Regions from separate parts of the Homo sapiens genome. Here region 2 is linked to region 1. Evidence: fine-mapped expression QTL. Tissue or cell type: whole blood. Region 1 holds a variant in brackets; the other region holds the start of a gene. All regions are shown on one strand. Distances are between the middles of the regions.

Region 1 (8,000 bases):
CTCTCCACCTCTCACCTCGGAGGCCAGGGTGCAGGTCTCAATCGTTTCACAAGTCCATCCTCGACCACTGCGGGCATCCCTCAGCCGGGGACACGTGCGGCGGGGCAGAGAGCAGTGCCACAACTGGCCCACGGGTGTACCTGGTTTGGACTGTAGTCTTTTTCAAATTTTAATGAAATCACCAGTCTCATCAAAAGACTGGTATAGACAAGGAGGAGGTGGTGAGGATGGCTCCTCAAAAGTCGGCCTCAGAACCCCCACATCACACACCCCGCTCTGCTACTCCCCACCCCATCCCCGCCTCCATCTTGAAGTGAAAAGGCTACATCAAGTCACCTCTAAAAGATGCTTTCCCTCTAAAAATAGCAGGAGTCTCGGCAGGGATGAACAGGGTCCCTAGAGACTCTGGCCTTTCCCAAGGCTACAGCCCCAGACAGACAGATGCCACCCCTCTTGCAGCCAGTCTCAAAAAAATCCAGTTAGCCTGACTTTCAAAACATGCTCTGACTCTAACCCCTTCTCCTGCTCCCCCATGCCCCCACCCTGGTCCAGCCACCATCCCCTCTGGCCTGGGCCTCTGCAGCAGCTTCTCCCTGTCCACACCCCAGCAGAGGGATCCTGCTGACACCTACGTCAAGCCAGGCCCTCCCAGCTCCCGCCTCGCTCAGAGTCCAAGTCCTCTAACTAAACATGTGCGAGGCCCACGATCCGCCCCCCTATCCTTCCCCTTCCCCTGCCCTTCCCACACAGGCCTCCTCTCTGTTCAAGATGTCACCCAACTCAGCCCTGCTCTCTCCTCAGCCTGGAGAGGTCCCTGCAGCTTCCACGTGGGCACCTCCTTCTTTGCCCAAATGTGGCTTTCCCAGGGAGATCCATCAAACCACTCCCAATTCTCCTTGGCCTGATAGTTTTCCCCATAGGACTTATCACCTCCCAACATACTATTTCATTTTCCTATTTAACATACTATTTAAAATTTTCCTATTTATAAGCTATATTGCTATCTCCCCCTAGCCAGCACATCAGCTCCACAGGGCCAGGGATTTTTGCCTGTGGTTCACTGCCATATTCCCAGTGCCAAGCACACAGTAGGTGCTTGGTAAGTATTTTTAATAAATGAGCAAATGAACCCCAGTGATCTCAGAACATTCTCCTCCTCCAATTTTTTGGAAGCCTGAGTGACCCGGCCACCACCTCTTTCCCTTCCCCTCCCCAGGAGGTCCAATGGAACCTTCTGTAGATGCCAACACAGCAGCCCTGATCAAGACAAATTAGCATCAGCAAGAACTACTTCCTGTCTCACGTCCCCAAACACAAAATTTTATTAGACAAATAGAAGCTAACACACCCAGCCAACTGCTAAAGGAGCACTGCTTACTGTCACGAGTGCAGCTTTCACCTGGAAAGGAAAAAATCCCATCTGGCTTGCTTCTTCCCTTCCTTAGATATCATTTCAAGTAAGTTGCAGTTAGCATAAAAGCTGAAATCCAACAGAATGAGCATCCACGTCCCATAATCCATTTTATGAGGTTTTGAAAGACTGGAGACTTTACCAGCTCCTCCAGCCCAGGAGGCAGTAGCCTGGACAGGTGGGCCTCAGGCCCTCACTCACCTCCCTGCAAAGCTCATTACTGTTACCGGGAATGAAATGGCCATCGGGTTTCCGCATCTGCAAGGAATTCCTCGTAACAGAGCTACCCATGTTTTTTCCACATGTCTGAACATCTGCTTGAAAGAACCAAGAGGACTCTTTGGAGGTGAGTGCGACGCTTCCACGTTCTCATATTTTGATCACTCCCTAAAAGGATGGCGTTCTGATTATTCTTTCCATTAAACATGCATCCCAGAGAGTTGTAAGAATAACATTTTTTGAAAGCCCCAGCACAAGGATGGATAAGGAATATACCAAAGTATCCCCTCCAGGGAATTTCTGTGCAGAATATGGTTAAAGGGTTTGGAAGCCGCCAGGAAAGGATTAAATGACAATGGCGTTATACAGGCCACTCTCAACTGGGATATTATTAGACCTCATAAGCTGAAGAACTATGGAAACACTTAAAGCCCAACCTTGCAAAACCGCTCTGAATGGATGTTTTGTCCACCGGAGGACCACTGCATCCTGTCCTGAAACAGGGCGAGGAATGATGGCAGGGCTCCACCAAAAGCGTGTGGCTCTTTTGAGATGAATCAAGTGGTTCCCCTTTTCATCTGATACCTGCAGACCAAAGTCAGGCTTGTGCATTAAGATTCATTGGTTCCTCTGAAAGAACCCTAGACTTGTTCTACTTCAATAAGATTTAGAACTTTTTTATTTATTTGTTTGTTTTTTTAGAGACATGGTCTCACTCTGTCACCCAGGCTGGAGTGCAGTGGCACGATCACAGCGGACTGCCGCCCTGAACTCCTGAGCTCAAGCAATCCTCTTGCCTCAGCCTCCCAAGTAGCTGGGATTACAGGTGTGAGCCACCACACTCACCTGAGATTTAGGGTTTTATAAGAGAAACTACCTCGATCCGGCTGTTAACAGGGTTCGTTCTGTAACTAGACAATTCTTAGAAATCATATAAATATAACCTCTCTCTTATCTCCCTTCCTATTTGATAAACCTTGAAGTAGCACCATTCTTATTTATTCCAGATGATGTGAACTGAAGCATATTTGCCATGAGCCAAATTCAACCCAAAGTTTGATTTATGGCCAAAACTGAAAAATCAGAAATTTCACATAAAAATTCCAACTCCTAGCTCTTGGGAAAGAAGAAAAAACAAAACCTATAAAACCTGGCAACATTCCACCCACATTCCCACATGTCACAGCCTATAGGGACTGAACAGCAACTGCCTCCTGAGGCAAGACTCACATGCCGCTCTGCCCTACTCCCCACCACCCCCTGTTGCTCCCTGACATTTGGTCAGTTCAGTCATTTCCTTTCATTGCCTGGCCCTCCTGGGCTTGTCTGTTTGTGATCTTGTTTATACAGTCTCTTCTTTGCTTCTTCCTTAGTCCACTGCTTCTAGAGAGAGGCGCATTGTTACTGAGGGTGTGGACAGTCAGTCCTTGCAAGTGGGTGCTTGCTGGGGCCTCTGGTGATGCAGCGTGTGGCCCCGAGGCATCCCACAGGCCTGAGAGCAAGTTGAGGACTTTGCTTCTGAGCTCCAAGCTCATATATCCAACTGTTTACTTGACATCTTTGCTCGTGTGCCTTGGAAGCCCTTTGTACCTTCTATGCCCCAAAGAGAACTTGCAATCTTCCCCCAAGAAAACACTTTCTTTCCCAAGTCCTTCTCCGCCATCCATCCAACCGAACCATCCACTCAGTTGCTCCTTTACCTCCCATACCTAAGTCCTGAAGATCACATTATAGAGTCCATAGCTTCCGCTCCCACTGCCACCTTCTAGTCCTTACCACCTTGATCTTTCCCCTGGTACTGCCACAGGCTAACAATCTCATCTCCCTGCTTCTTCCGTAACTTCTTCTAATCTAGTCCCCAGGGAGAAACCTGAGTGATCTATAAAATGTTAAATCAGAATCAAGTTCCTCCTCTACTCAAAACGTATCATGTCTTCCCCTTGCCCTGGAATAAGCAAAATTTCATCTCCTCACCTTGGCTTTTAAGCCCTGCACAGTTTGGGCCTGCCAACCATCACCCTGCAAGCTAAACTTGAATGACACTGGCCCTCCTTCAGCTCTTCAGCCACACACAGTCCTTCCCTGCCTCAGGGCCTTTGCATGTGCTGTGCTCTGTGTGTAGAACACTCTCCCCCGACTAAGAGAGACAGAGAGCACGGAGGAGGAGGAGGACATCATTTGTCTCTTTGCTGGTTCTATGACCTGTTCCAGGTCCCAGCTGACAAGTCACCTCCTCAACGAGACACTCTTTCTAAAGTAGGTCTTCCAAGTACCATCTCTTGTCATGGTTTGTTCTGTAGAAGCAGTTCCTCCCAAGCGGTGAATCCAATGGACAAGCTTCTAATCAGCCATCACGTCCCACCGTGAGTCCAGGCATCAGCCCACAGATCCCCTCCAAGTGGCCGCCATCTGGCCTCTCAGGCCTCCCTGACCAACTCAAACCATCCTAGTCCACTTTCCCGCAGCCCCTGAGCTCCCTCAGGGCATGAGCTGTGCTGATCTCACCAACGTTGTATCACCTGCAACCAGCACAGTGCCTGGCACATGGCAGGTCCCCAGTGAGACATTCCCCATACAAATGAGTCATGAGATCTGACAAGCACTTAAGGTTTGGGAACAAACTTTCTCCCAAGACCAAGTACCATTCAAAAAAAGCAATGAAGAGAACAGCTGAGCATGGCATATGTTTAAGATTTTTAATTGTACACTTAAGGATAAAAAATGAAATGGTCTTATATTCATTTTCTTTTTATATAAAGAGGAGCTTAAAACCACTAGGCATGAAAAAAGAATGAAGTTCTATAGTGAGGCAAATAAAAGAGAGAAGGGTG[G/A]AGACTGAGTAACTGAGAGGGGAGAAGAGGCTGTGGTTCAGAAATAGAAACAGATACAGAGATAAAGAGTGAGACAGAAATCAACAGAGAAGCCGGCGGAAGCATTCAGGCAAGGTACAAAGCAGGCTACACTGCTCTTCTGGATATGAAAGGGGCAGTGCTGCAGATTCCAGAAGGAGTTTTCACACTCCCTTGAAGGGTAAGAGCAGCAATCCTCTTAAAGTCCACTCTTTTCTCAATTTTTCCAAGAAGTTTTTTTTTTTAAACTGACTTCCCATGCTAAAAATCAGTAATTAGCATGACTTATTTTGAAAAAACATAATCTATTCAAATGACTTTTTAAAAAGACTCCACTTTTTGTCTTTTAAAGAGACTTGTCTGCAAGTTTTTAAATCATATATTGGATCTTCAAAGTTACAGGCACTTGGGCCACTTGTGGTGGCTCACACTGTAATCCTAACACTTTGGGAGGATGAGGTGGTAGGATCACTTGAGCCCAGGAGTTCAAGACCAGCCTAAGCAACGCAGGGAGACCATGTCTCTACAAAAAAGGAAAAAATTAGCTGGGCATGGTGGTAACACGCCTATAGTCCCAACTACTCAGGAGGCTGAGGTGGGAGGATCACTTGAGCTCAGAAATTCAAGGCAGCAGTGAGCAGTGATCATGCCACTGCACTCCAGCCTGGGTGACAAAGCAAGATCCTATCTCTAAAATAAGCAAACAAATAAACAAACAAACAAAGTCACATGCATGAAGAGGCAAGAGTCCTTGGGAGCTATCAGAGGGAGAAGCACAAACTTCAGGGACAGCCTAGCAGGTGTCTCCTGGACTGTACACTCAGCCCATTCCCTTCTCTGGAAATTTCCAGGGCCCCAGCCCCTGATGAATGGGTGAGCTGAGCCTCACTCCTCATGCAGCCCAACCTCCAGGCCACAGCCTACTGGACCAATGGGCGGCACCCTCCCAAGACAGGGCCAATCAGCATCTCCCTGAGAATCAGGATTTAGCTCCCATGAGGTGATGACAAGGCTCATACTGGAACAGCATGCAAAACTAGGGGGAATGGAGTGGCCCGCAGGAGGCGTGGGCATTTCCCCTTCAGGCTTTTTCTGCACAAGTGAGAAGGCAGGAAGAGCTGGTCTGCAAAGAGACGTGGATGATCAGATCTACTGTGCTGCAAATAGAGCTTGCGGTATCCAAATCCCAGCTCCACCATTTAATAGCCATAACCTTGAACAAGTCCTTGACAGCTACTTGACCTGTTACCTGCATCATAAGGCTCTTTTGAGGATTAAATAAGTTAACACATATGCAGCACTTGGAACAGGATCTCACAGGCAGCAAATGTTTTCTAAATGTTTATTATTACTATCATCTTGCCAAAATGTAAGCTCATGATGGTGAGAATTTCCAGCTGTTTTGTTCATATCATAACCCAGAATCAAGCACCATGCCTGGTACATAGTAGGTGCTCAATAAACATCTTTTGAATAATCAGTGAATGAAGATGCCACAAAGCCAGAAATGGATACAGATTCTCTCTCCTTAAGACTTAAAATTGTTTGGCCAATGCATTTAATGAGCAGATTCATTCTCCAAGTATTTGTTGAGTGCCTGCTATGTTTGTGGCAGCAAACTGTGCTTGATGGTGATATACAATGAAGAATAAGAAGGAAGTTGTGGTCTCTTTTAAACAAAGCTCATGGTCTAAGAGAGAGAGACATTGACAAAATAATTATGCAAATGTTAGAATTACAAGTAGTGGCAGGTAGCATGAAGGAAAGGTGCATGGAGCTGTGGACACATAAAACAGAGCACTTGGCCAGGCACGGTGGCTCACGCCTATAATCCCAGCACTTTGGGAGGCCGAGGTGGGTGGATCACTTGAAATCAAGAGTTCAAGACCAGCCAGACCAATATAGTGAAACCCTGTCTCTACTAAAAATACAAAAATTAACCAGGCATGGTGGCGCACACCTGTAATCCCAGCTACTCAGGAGGCTGAGGCAGAGGAATCACCTGAACCCAGGAGGCAGAGGTTGCAGTGAGCCAAGATTACACCACTGCACTCCAGCCTGTGTGACAGAGTGATAGACTCTGTCAAAAAATACATATATATATTACATAAGGCAATTGCTCTCAGGATTGGACGGCAGGAATCAGAAGACTGCGGTCCCCAAGGGAGAGGAAGTGCACAGGTGAGCCCACCTTCATTTCAGCTCTCTGCCTGGGGACAGCTCCCCTGCCACGTGCAGGAAGTAGCATCTGAGCAGAGCACAGTGGTCCCGCTGTGCTGAGGATTCCTGAAATAATCCTGGATTCCTGGCACCGCTCAGAGTGCCAGGCTGTGGAAACTGCTGGAATCGGTGGCATCAGAGAGGAGGAAGCTGCTGGGGGAAACCCTCAACTCTTTGGCCAAGGGCTGGGCTGTGTAAGCACAGGGAGAGATGGTGCGAGGTTTACCAGAGAGGGGCTGCTATGGGGTGGAGAGAACAGAGAGACTAAGAGTGCAGCGGAGCTGGCATATGGGAATTCCAGCCCACCAGATTAAAGAGACCTCCCCACCAAGCATCCAAAATGGCCATGCCTTCAGAACAGGCACATGCCTCAGAGGAAGGGCTACTCCAGGCCTGCCCTAATGGGGCCTAAAACCAATCCTCAAATAAAATACAGAGAAGACAGTTTAAAATCTAAGCCCCATCAAGTTAGATACACCTTGTGCTTTCCACAGATCCACCTGATGAAGCACGAAAGAAAGTTCAGAATGTCTACCACATCCAGTATATATCATCACGATGTCAGAATGCAGTCGACAACTACTAGACAGGCAACACAACAGGAAAATGGGACTCATGGTCAAGAACCAAAACTCAATGAATAGAAACAGATTCCAAGATGGCTATGGTGTCTGATTTAAAAAAAAAAAAAAGCAATTGTCAGGACTTACAAGTTCTTAATATTATCATAGATGTCCTTAATCAGAGGTACACACCCAAAGCACCTGTGGAGATTTGGGGAGTTTGCTGTTTTTCATTTGTTTGTTTGTTTACCTGGGCTTTACTCATGTTATATAGTTTCTAATTTAGTTTCAGAATGCCCAACAATCTGAATTTTTAAGAACCACCCTAGAGGTTCTGATGCACACTATAGATTAAGAACCAAGTTTTATCATATTAATAGGATACTTCTACTTTAAGGCAAATACCAAAAAAAGTTATATTAATTTAAATGTATTAAAGGTTCTAGTTAATTGACTTGTTAGTGGGCACCAGTCAGTTGTTCCTGGTTAACCAGATTATACAATTAAGAATATTTCAACTCCAATTATTTTGGGGAAAAATAGGCACACTTCTCTACTTATTTTGAAAAAAAAATCTGAGGTTAAATCAAAAGCCACAGACACACAAAAAAGCTACTGATTAAGAAAAAAACAAAAGGAAATGCTCATGGCAAAATGTAAACTTAAAAAATCAGAGTACAATCTACATGTTCACTATAGAATTAAGAATAGAAATATATGGTAACAGAGGCTGGCGTG
Region 2 (8,000 bases), 30 kb after region 1:
TAAAATGGATAATTTCCCAGAAAGATAGAGTTTACAAAAATTGACTCCAGTAGAAGTAGAAAGTGTAAAGAGACCAATTCCCACAGTATAGAGAAAGCCATCAAGAAACAACTCCACAAAGAAGCACCAGGTCCAGGCGGCTTCACAGAGGAATTCTATCACAGCTTTAGAGACCAGGGAGTCCCAGGGAGACAGAAATTATTCCTGAGCTTAGAAAAGGAAAGAAACCTAAACCTGATAGCACAAAAAATAGGCCAATATGAATATCACTCATGAATACTGAAAAATGCTTAAATATTATCTGATGCCACAACCACCTTAAGAAAATAATACACCAAGTGGAGTCCATACCAAGGATGTCTTCATATAAAGAAATCTAATAATGTATGCCAACACATTAATAGGTCTACGAAGAATAAGATCATATTTTTCCATAGATGCTAAAAAAGCCTTTGATATAATTCAACTCCCATTTGTAATAAAAACTCTCGGGGGAAAAAAGAAAGAACTAATACTTCCTTTACATAATTCATACACCTCAATTTTAAAGCCAACACTGGAGTCCTCCTCCAAGGCAAGGATGCCCACTGTCTTCACTATCATGTAACACTCTACTGGAGGTATTAGTTAATGCAATTAGACAAGAGAAAACAACAGAGGCACAATTAGAGGCAGTAGCTCAGAGAGGACAGGATCTGGGTCTCATTCCCCGTTGTGACCCTAGGATCTAACACAGAGGGTGCTCAATAGCTGAATGAGTAAATAAACAATGGCTCATATTAATTGAACACCTCCATTAACAAAAGCAAGGGTTTACTAAACCACTAGTAACAGATCACATGCTGTGTTGATTTAAATGGGTTAACCTATTCAAGGCAGGTAACGGTCCTATGAGGCAAGTGGTATTATTTCAGCCATTTTACAGATAAGCAGACAGATGTCCAGAGAGATGAGATGACTTGCTCAAGATCACCTTGTTGGTAAACAAGGTTTTCAATTCCAGCCCTGCCATGGTCCCAGACACCTTGCTAACTGGTTTGCATGTGTCTCTCACCAAATGAGAGAATGAGGACCCTAACACAATAGTTCAGAACACATGGTATGGAGCAACACTGCCCATTTTGGGAAAATTACTTTACCTCTCTGTGCCTTAGCGTCCTCCTCCATAAAACAGGGGTGATAATAGTGCCTGCCTCCTAGGGTTGGAGTGGAATCACATGGGCTAATGAACGTCTGCTACATGCTAAACTCCATAAAATGAGCATCCGACCTCCCCAAAATTCCCTAATTTACCTTCACCAATTCTATCAACAATGTCTGCCCCATTAGCAGTACCTTTCCTTCCTTGGTTTTTGCCAAGCTCGTGCCCAGAGTTAAGGATAGAACTTTACATGCGTCACCAATATGTTGCCATCTGGGACAAAACCTAATAAAAAGATTAAGGCTAGTGTTCACCCCTGAGGAGTCCCACCATACAGAAGCAAAGAGAGGTGACTGCTATTAACATCTGGGTGACCCAGAGCCAGATGCACATCTGGGGCAGTTCACATTAGCCTCTTAAAGCTTACCATGTCCCTTCTCTTTTTTTGTCTGGTTTGTTGGTTTGAGACAGGGTTTCGCACTGTCCCATGGGCTGGAGTGCAGTGGCACGATCACGGCTCAGGGCAGCCTCGAACTCCTGGGGTTAAGAGATTCTCCTACCTAAGCCTCCGAGTAGCTGGGAAGCTGGGTCTACAGGCATGCGCAACTAGGCTAGGCTAATTGTTTTATTTTTTTATTTTTATTAGAGATGAGGTCTTGCTATGTTGCCCCAGCTGGTCTTGAAGCCCTGGACTCAAGCAATCTTCCCACCTCGACTTCCCAAATTGTTGGGATTGCAGGCATGAGCCACCACTCCCGGCCACAGCATCCCTTCTCTTTCTGGGTGCTAACTCTTCTGTGCTGCCTACTTCTCAGCAAAGAGTAAGTGCTTTCCAGATTCTGGAGTATTACTCTGTACTCCTTAAGTGTGGGCTTCATGTAGTAATGCCTTCCAAAGAGTTTGAAGAAACTGAGAAAAGCTACCTCTACTGGGTAATCAAGGTTAGCATTAATGATAAATGACATGGATAGTATACTTTTTGTTGTTGTTTTTTGAGACAGAGTCTCACTCTTGTCACCCAGGCTGGAGTGCAATGGTGCCACCTGCCTCACTGCAACTTCTGCCTACTGGGTTCAAGCAATTCTCCTGCGTCATCCTCCTGAGTTTCTGGAATTACAGTGCCTTCCACCATGCCTGGCTAATTTGTGTATTTTTAGTAGAGTTGGGGTTTCACCATGTTGGCCAGGCTGGTCTTGACCTCCTGACCTCAGGTGATCCGCCCGCCTCAGCCTCCCAAAGTGTTGGGATTACAGGCGTGAGCCACCACGCCTGGCTGGATAGTACATACTCTTGATACGATGTGATGAGAAGGGAGCTTTATCTTTGTGGGCTTCCTCCCGAAAACCTAGAGCCCTAGTCTAATGAAGGGACAGTCTACAATACAACCAACACTCCTCAAAACAGTGAAGGTCACATAAAACATTCCCAATCTGAATAAGGCATAAACCTCAGTTAATAATGTGTCAATATTGGTTTGTTGGTTACAATAAATGCACCATACTAATGTAAAACATTAATAACACGGGGAAACAGGGTATTGGGTATATGGGAACTCTCTGTGCTATCTTTGCAACTTTTCTGTAAATCTGAAACTGTTCCAAAAACTGAAGTTTTTTTTTTGTTTTTTTTTTTTTGAGAAAACAGATTCCAGGGCTTTCATTGTGGTCATTTAGATACCCATCTGGTGGCCACCAAGCAGCACTTGCCAAGAAAAACCATAAAAAGTACCTCCCTTCAGATTTGGCTTGGAAACTATTTCCCCGGAAATCCCCCCACCCCACCCGACAAGGAAAATAAAAGCTGATTACCAATCTGGGAGGGGTGTGAGTATTCGTTCCCTGAAAAACATGACTTTAATCTTAATGAACAGAAAGACCACGGATATTAGTGCGGATCGTTTGCAGATTCTTAATTGTATCTTTTCAAAGCAAAAGATGTCCTCCAGATTGCAACTCTAGAAGACTGGTCTCTTCTGTTGGCTAATTGTTTCCATCTCCAGCCAAGACACAAAATTATTACTAATGACCATCTCTGGGTATCCAAGGGAAGAGGATACCCAAAGCTAAAGCAAACCCCTCACCTAACGTGGCCAGAGAGGACACCGATGGAAGCGAAAACTTCATTATCTGCCTAACACAGTGTTTGTGGGAAACATCAGGCCACCAAGCCTCCTTGACAGGCTTCCTCCACGAGCCAGTCAGCACAAGCCCTTCCTACACACTAGATGGAGGCAAGCCCAGAGTGCGTCTGGAAGCTACTAACAGGCCTGCCACTGAGCCTTCAACAAGCATTGGCTGGGCTGGGCTGGGCTGTCAAAATCAGGAAGCCTGGTTGGGTTTTTTGTTTTTTCCAAGACAACCTGCTAACCAGAAATACACAGTGAGGTTGGGCGTGTGGCCGCTTCCCCCTCCTCCTCCTCCTCCCTCTAACGAATGCTCCTGTTAAACACGTGAAGTGACAGATAAGCATTGGGCCCAGCCCGGGGAAGTCCCCAGCCCCCAGCAACTGAGGGCAGTTGGAGGCACAGAGTGACAAAGTTCAGGCAGAAAGAGCCTGTGTCCTTCTGAATCCATGCTGCAGCTGCCCCTCACCCTACCCCATCCCACCACATCCATTAGGACTAAGCGTAGAAGATCACTTAATATAGCTCAGACCAATCCTCTTGTGAGTGGTAAGTGATGGGTTCAGCAGCAGAACCCAGGGAGGAAATGGGCCGGCCTTATAATACCAAAGGTTTTAACCCTCTCCAGCATCAGACAGACAACCTCTTCCTCAGTTTCAACACAAAGTCCCCGTCAACCACTGCTCACAGGAGGTGATGGGAGCTGCGTGGCCTCACTTCAGTGCCTGGAGGGAAGGAGCGGCCTCCTACCCTTGATAACTGGGTTCAGCTGCACCCCCCTTCCTTCTTTTTTTGGCAACTCCTCCCTGCTAACTCCATTCTTCGCTTCCTCACCTCCTCCCTCCAAAGGCACAGAAATCATGTCCCTTGCCCTTTGACAGCCCAGTCCCAGGCAAGAGGCCAGCAGACAGCACCCGCCCCCCAGCCTTGGGACCTGCCTGCCACCTTTTGTTTTGCTGAGAGTGACCCTCAGGGAGCAGTCATGAGCAACCAGAAACTGGTGCCCCTAAGGGGCAAGAGGGAGCCGACCGCCCCCTAAGGGTGGCAGGGGCCACTGACGCCTCCCCTCCCTGGCACCTGGGTAGGGGCACCCTCCCTCCAGGCCCCTTAGGAAGGGGGACGGCTGGAGCCAAGAGGACTCCTGTGCCCAGTCCCCAGGCCTGAGCCCCTGGCGGGCTCAGGGGCCAGGCCAGGGGTAGCCTCCACCGACCTTCGTTCGGATTCAAATACTCATAGTCGAAGAGGATGGAGAAGTCAAGCTCGTCTTGGGGGCTGCCCCCAGGCTCGTGGCCTGGGGCGTCCCCGCCGTCGGGTTGGGGCTGCCGCTCGGGGGCGTTCATGGCGCGCAGGGCGGGAAGGCTGCGGGGCCGGGGGCGAGGGCGGGCGCGGCTGGCTCTGGGACCCCTCGCAGTGGGGCTGGCGGAGGCGGCTCGAGCGGCGGGGTCCCTTTCCTCGTAGGGACGCACGCCGGGTCCGGGGACGGCGCGCCTGGCGCAGCGGGTCCTGGACGCGCCCGGGGAAGCTGAGCGGCGGCGGCGACGGCGGCGCGAGCTTCCTGCTCCGGAGGCACCTGTTGCAGCCCGGGGAGGCGGGGGGGGGGGGGGCGTGGAGGCGGGGACAGGGCGGCCAGGCCGGCGGGGGCGGGGCCGCCACCAGGGGACCGGAGGGGAGGGGCGCGCGGCCTGGGCTGGCCGGTGCCGGGAGGAAGGAGGCTGTCCGCGGACCTGACCACACTGTCCCGGGCCACCGCTGGGCGCTGGGGCGGCCGCTGTCTCCCACCCTCCACGGGTGAGTGCGACACGCGCTGCGCGAACCAGGGTCTAGACAAGAAAGCTGCCGCCACTAGGACTTTTGCCCTAAGGGACCCACTGGCCCCACACTTTTTCCTGCTTTTCTTCTCCATGGGGTGGAAGGGGGTATCCACCCCCTTCTATTGCAGACCCGTGTCTCCAGGCGTCTCCGTGTGCCCACGGGGGCGGCATGATTTTCACAGTACTTCAGACACCTGCATGGCCCTGAACTCAACTCCCCAGCGCCTAGGAAGGAATCGGACTGACAGCACTAGTCCCCCCCGTTACAGCTATGCCTCCTGGCCACCTACCACGTGCCAGGTGCTGGGCACCCAGCCGGAGCCAGACACTGTTGCCCTCGGAAGCTCAGGCTCTGGTAGTGGGAGAGGCCTGAAGGAGAGAAACAGGACAAAAAGCATCTGCTTATGGGGCCAGGAGAGAACTCACCAGGGTATGGGATAAAGGTTGGGGTGGCTTTAGTCCCTTGGGTGGTCAAGGAGGACCTCTCTGAGGAGGTGACATTTGAAGAAACCTGATTGATGAGGCGATCTTGGGGAAGTGTGTTCTGGCAGTGAGAACCAAAACACAGAGCCAGAGCTCGAAGGGGCTGGGTGTGCTGGAGGGAGAACGAGGAGTACAGTTCTGATGGGGCGGTTGGCAAGTGACAAACACGCCTGGCTGCTTGTTTAAAGCATGATTCCCAGGCCCCTCCCTGGAGCTTCTGATTCCATAAGTCTGAATACAGACTCGTGAATGTGTATTTTTAATTAAGCACCCAACGTGAGCATTAATGAACAGGTACATTTGGCAAACACTGCATAAGGACCCAGTAACTAAAGAACACCCTCCAATAAAACTCTGCCAGGGGGCTCCACCAACTTAGCTGAAGTTGGAAACAGACTCACAGAGGTAGAAAAGATCAAAACAGTGGTCTTCAACCCTTCCCACATATTAGAATCACCTGGGACACCTTTTTAAACTCCCGTGCTGGGCTGCAATCCAAACCCACTGAAGCAGAATTCCTAATTTTTTTTTTTTTTTTTTTTTTTTTTTTTGGAGACGGAGTCTCGCTCTGTCGCCCAGGCTGGAGTGCAGTGGCGCGATCTTGGCTCATTGCAAGCTCTGCCTTCTGGGTTCACGCCATTCTCCTGCCTCAGCCTCCCGAGTAGCTGGGACTACAGGCGCCAGCCACCATGCCTGGCTACTTTTTTGTATTTTTAGTAGAGATGGGGTTTCACTGTGTTAGCCAGGAAGGTCTTGATCTCCTGACCTCGTGATCCACCCGCCTCGGCCTCCCCAAGTGCTGGGATTACAGGTGTGAGCCACCACGCCCGGCCTGAAAATTTTTTTAAACTTCAGATGAATCTAAGGTGCAGCCAGTGTTGAGGATGAGAAGATTAGACGGGAGAGGTCTTAAGATCCTCGTGAGAACCACAGCTTGACCTCAAGTGATTCGAATCCTTCCCCATGTGCCAGGAGGAATTGAGGACACGCATTCTTCAGGGGAGCCATCTCAGCTCCATTAAGGGGATTTGTGCCAAGCCATCCATCATTCCACAAATATTTATTGAGCACCTGCCTGGCACTGCCACAAGATGTTGGGGATGCAACCATCAACAAGCCACAGCCTCTCCCTTCATCATGCTTATGCCCTGAAAGCAAAGTAGCACAGTTATGAACGGGGTTTTCAAAATTGCACTCAGACCAGTGGTTCTTAACCCAGACTACACATTAGAATCACCTGGAGAGCTGTTAAAATTTGTATTCAACGACCTGAGCACCACCAGACATCGATTTGATCAGAATGTTTGGGGTTGGGACTTAGGCATCAGTATTTTGTAAAAGCTCACCAGATGCTTCCAATGTGTGGCCAGAGATGAGAACCACTTTGGTTTAGACTCAAACTCTACTGCAGGGGCCTGGGGGCTGGCTCAGGAATCATTTCAGAGTCTTGGGCAGCACCTCCTGGTTGTCAGAGCATAAAGAAATTCCAGCCTTTGTTTCCTAACTATAAGCACTTCTGTGCCATGTGTATCCAACAAGCATCTTGGGGGCAGCTGATGCATTTAGGTGGAGGAAGGAAGAGTGAAGACCCCAGCTAGGATACTTATAGACAGGTATCTAGAAAGAGATGGATTCTTCTGGGTCCTTATGACAGGGACCCAAGGTCCAGATGATGAAATTTTGGCCAATAAACAAGAAAACCAGGCTTCCCCTGTGATTTAGAAAAGGAGAAAAGCTAGGAATGCCTCCCCACATCCTTTCTCGTCCCTCCATCCCATAATTATTAAGTGCCACTAAATCTAGTGGACATTTGTTGATTGTGCCTACCCAGAATAATTCCTCCCTTCTTCTCATAACAGCACCCCAGTGTGTTCCTTGGGGAAACTACTCTAAACATAATCTTGGTAGAGCTATCAACCCAGCTGCCCCACCTTCCCCAAGCAACGAAGTGGATGAATGACCCAGACTGCGCCAATCAGAGAATTTTATCTCCACTAACTAGCCTGAGATCCACTAAGGCAGGGGCTATGACCACCTCATTCGCAGCTTTATGTGCAATGGATGTGTGGATAAATGGAGGATGGATAAGTAGATGGATTGATGGATGGGTGAATGGAAGATGGATGCATGGATGGAAGATGGATGGATGGATGAATAGATGGGTGGATGGATGGATAGGGGATGGATTGATGGATGGGTGAATGGAAGATGGATGCATGGATGGAAGATGGGTGGATGGATGAATAGATGGGTGGATGGATGGATAGGGGATGGATGGAAGAATGGATGGATGATGGATGGAGGAGTGGATGGAGGGTGGATGGACGGATGGATGGAGGATAAATGGATAAATGGATGAATGAAAGATACATGGATGGATTGATGGAGGATAGATGGATGAATGGATGGATGAAAGAGTGAATGTGTTGCACGGATGAGTGGA

The links.
Region 2: it holds the start of NFATC2, and the variant in region 1 is fine-mapped to the expression of NFATC2 in whole blood (TOPMed, PIP 0.97).

The regions. Positions count from the first base shown.
Region 1 is chr20:51,508,309-51,516,308 of GRCh38, forward strand. All of the region lies in intron 3 of NFATC2 (nuclear factor of activated T cells 2), which reads right to left. Among named protein-coding and RNA genes, the nearest start is that of NFATC2, 30 kb to the right of the region's middle. The variant G/A (reference allele first, on the strand shown) is at 4,462.
Region 2 is chr20:51,537,897-51,545,896 of GRCh38, forward strand. It overlaps NFATC2 (nuclear factor of activated T cells 2), which reads right to left and starts at 4,823. Exons shown (of 11, transcript NM_012340.5): 1 at 4,474-4,823. The coding sequence starts at 4,603. RefSeq lists an enhancer at 3,124-3,793 and silencers at 4,558-4,667, 4,678-4,837.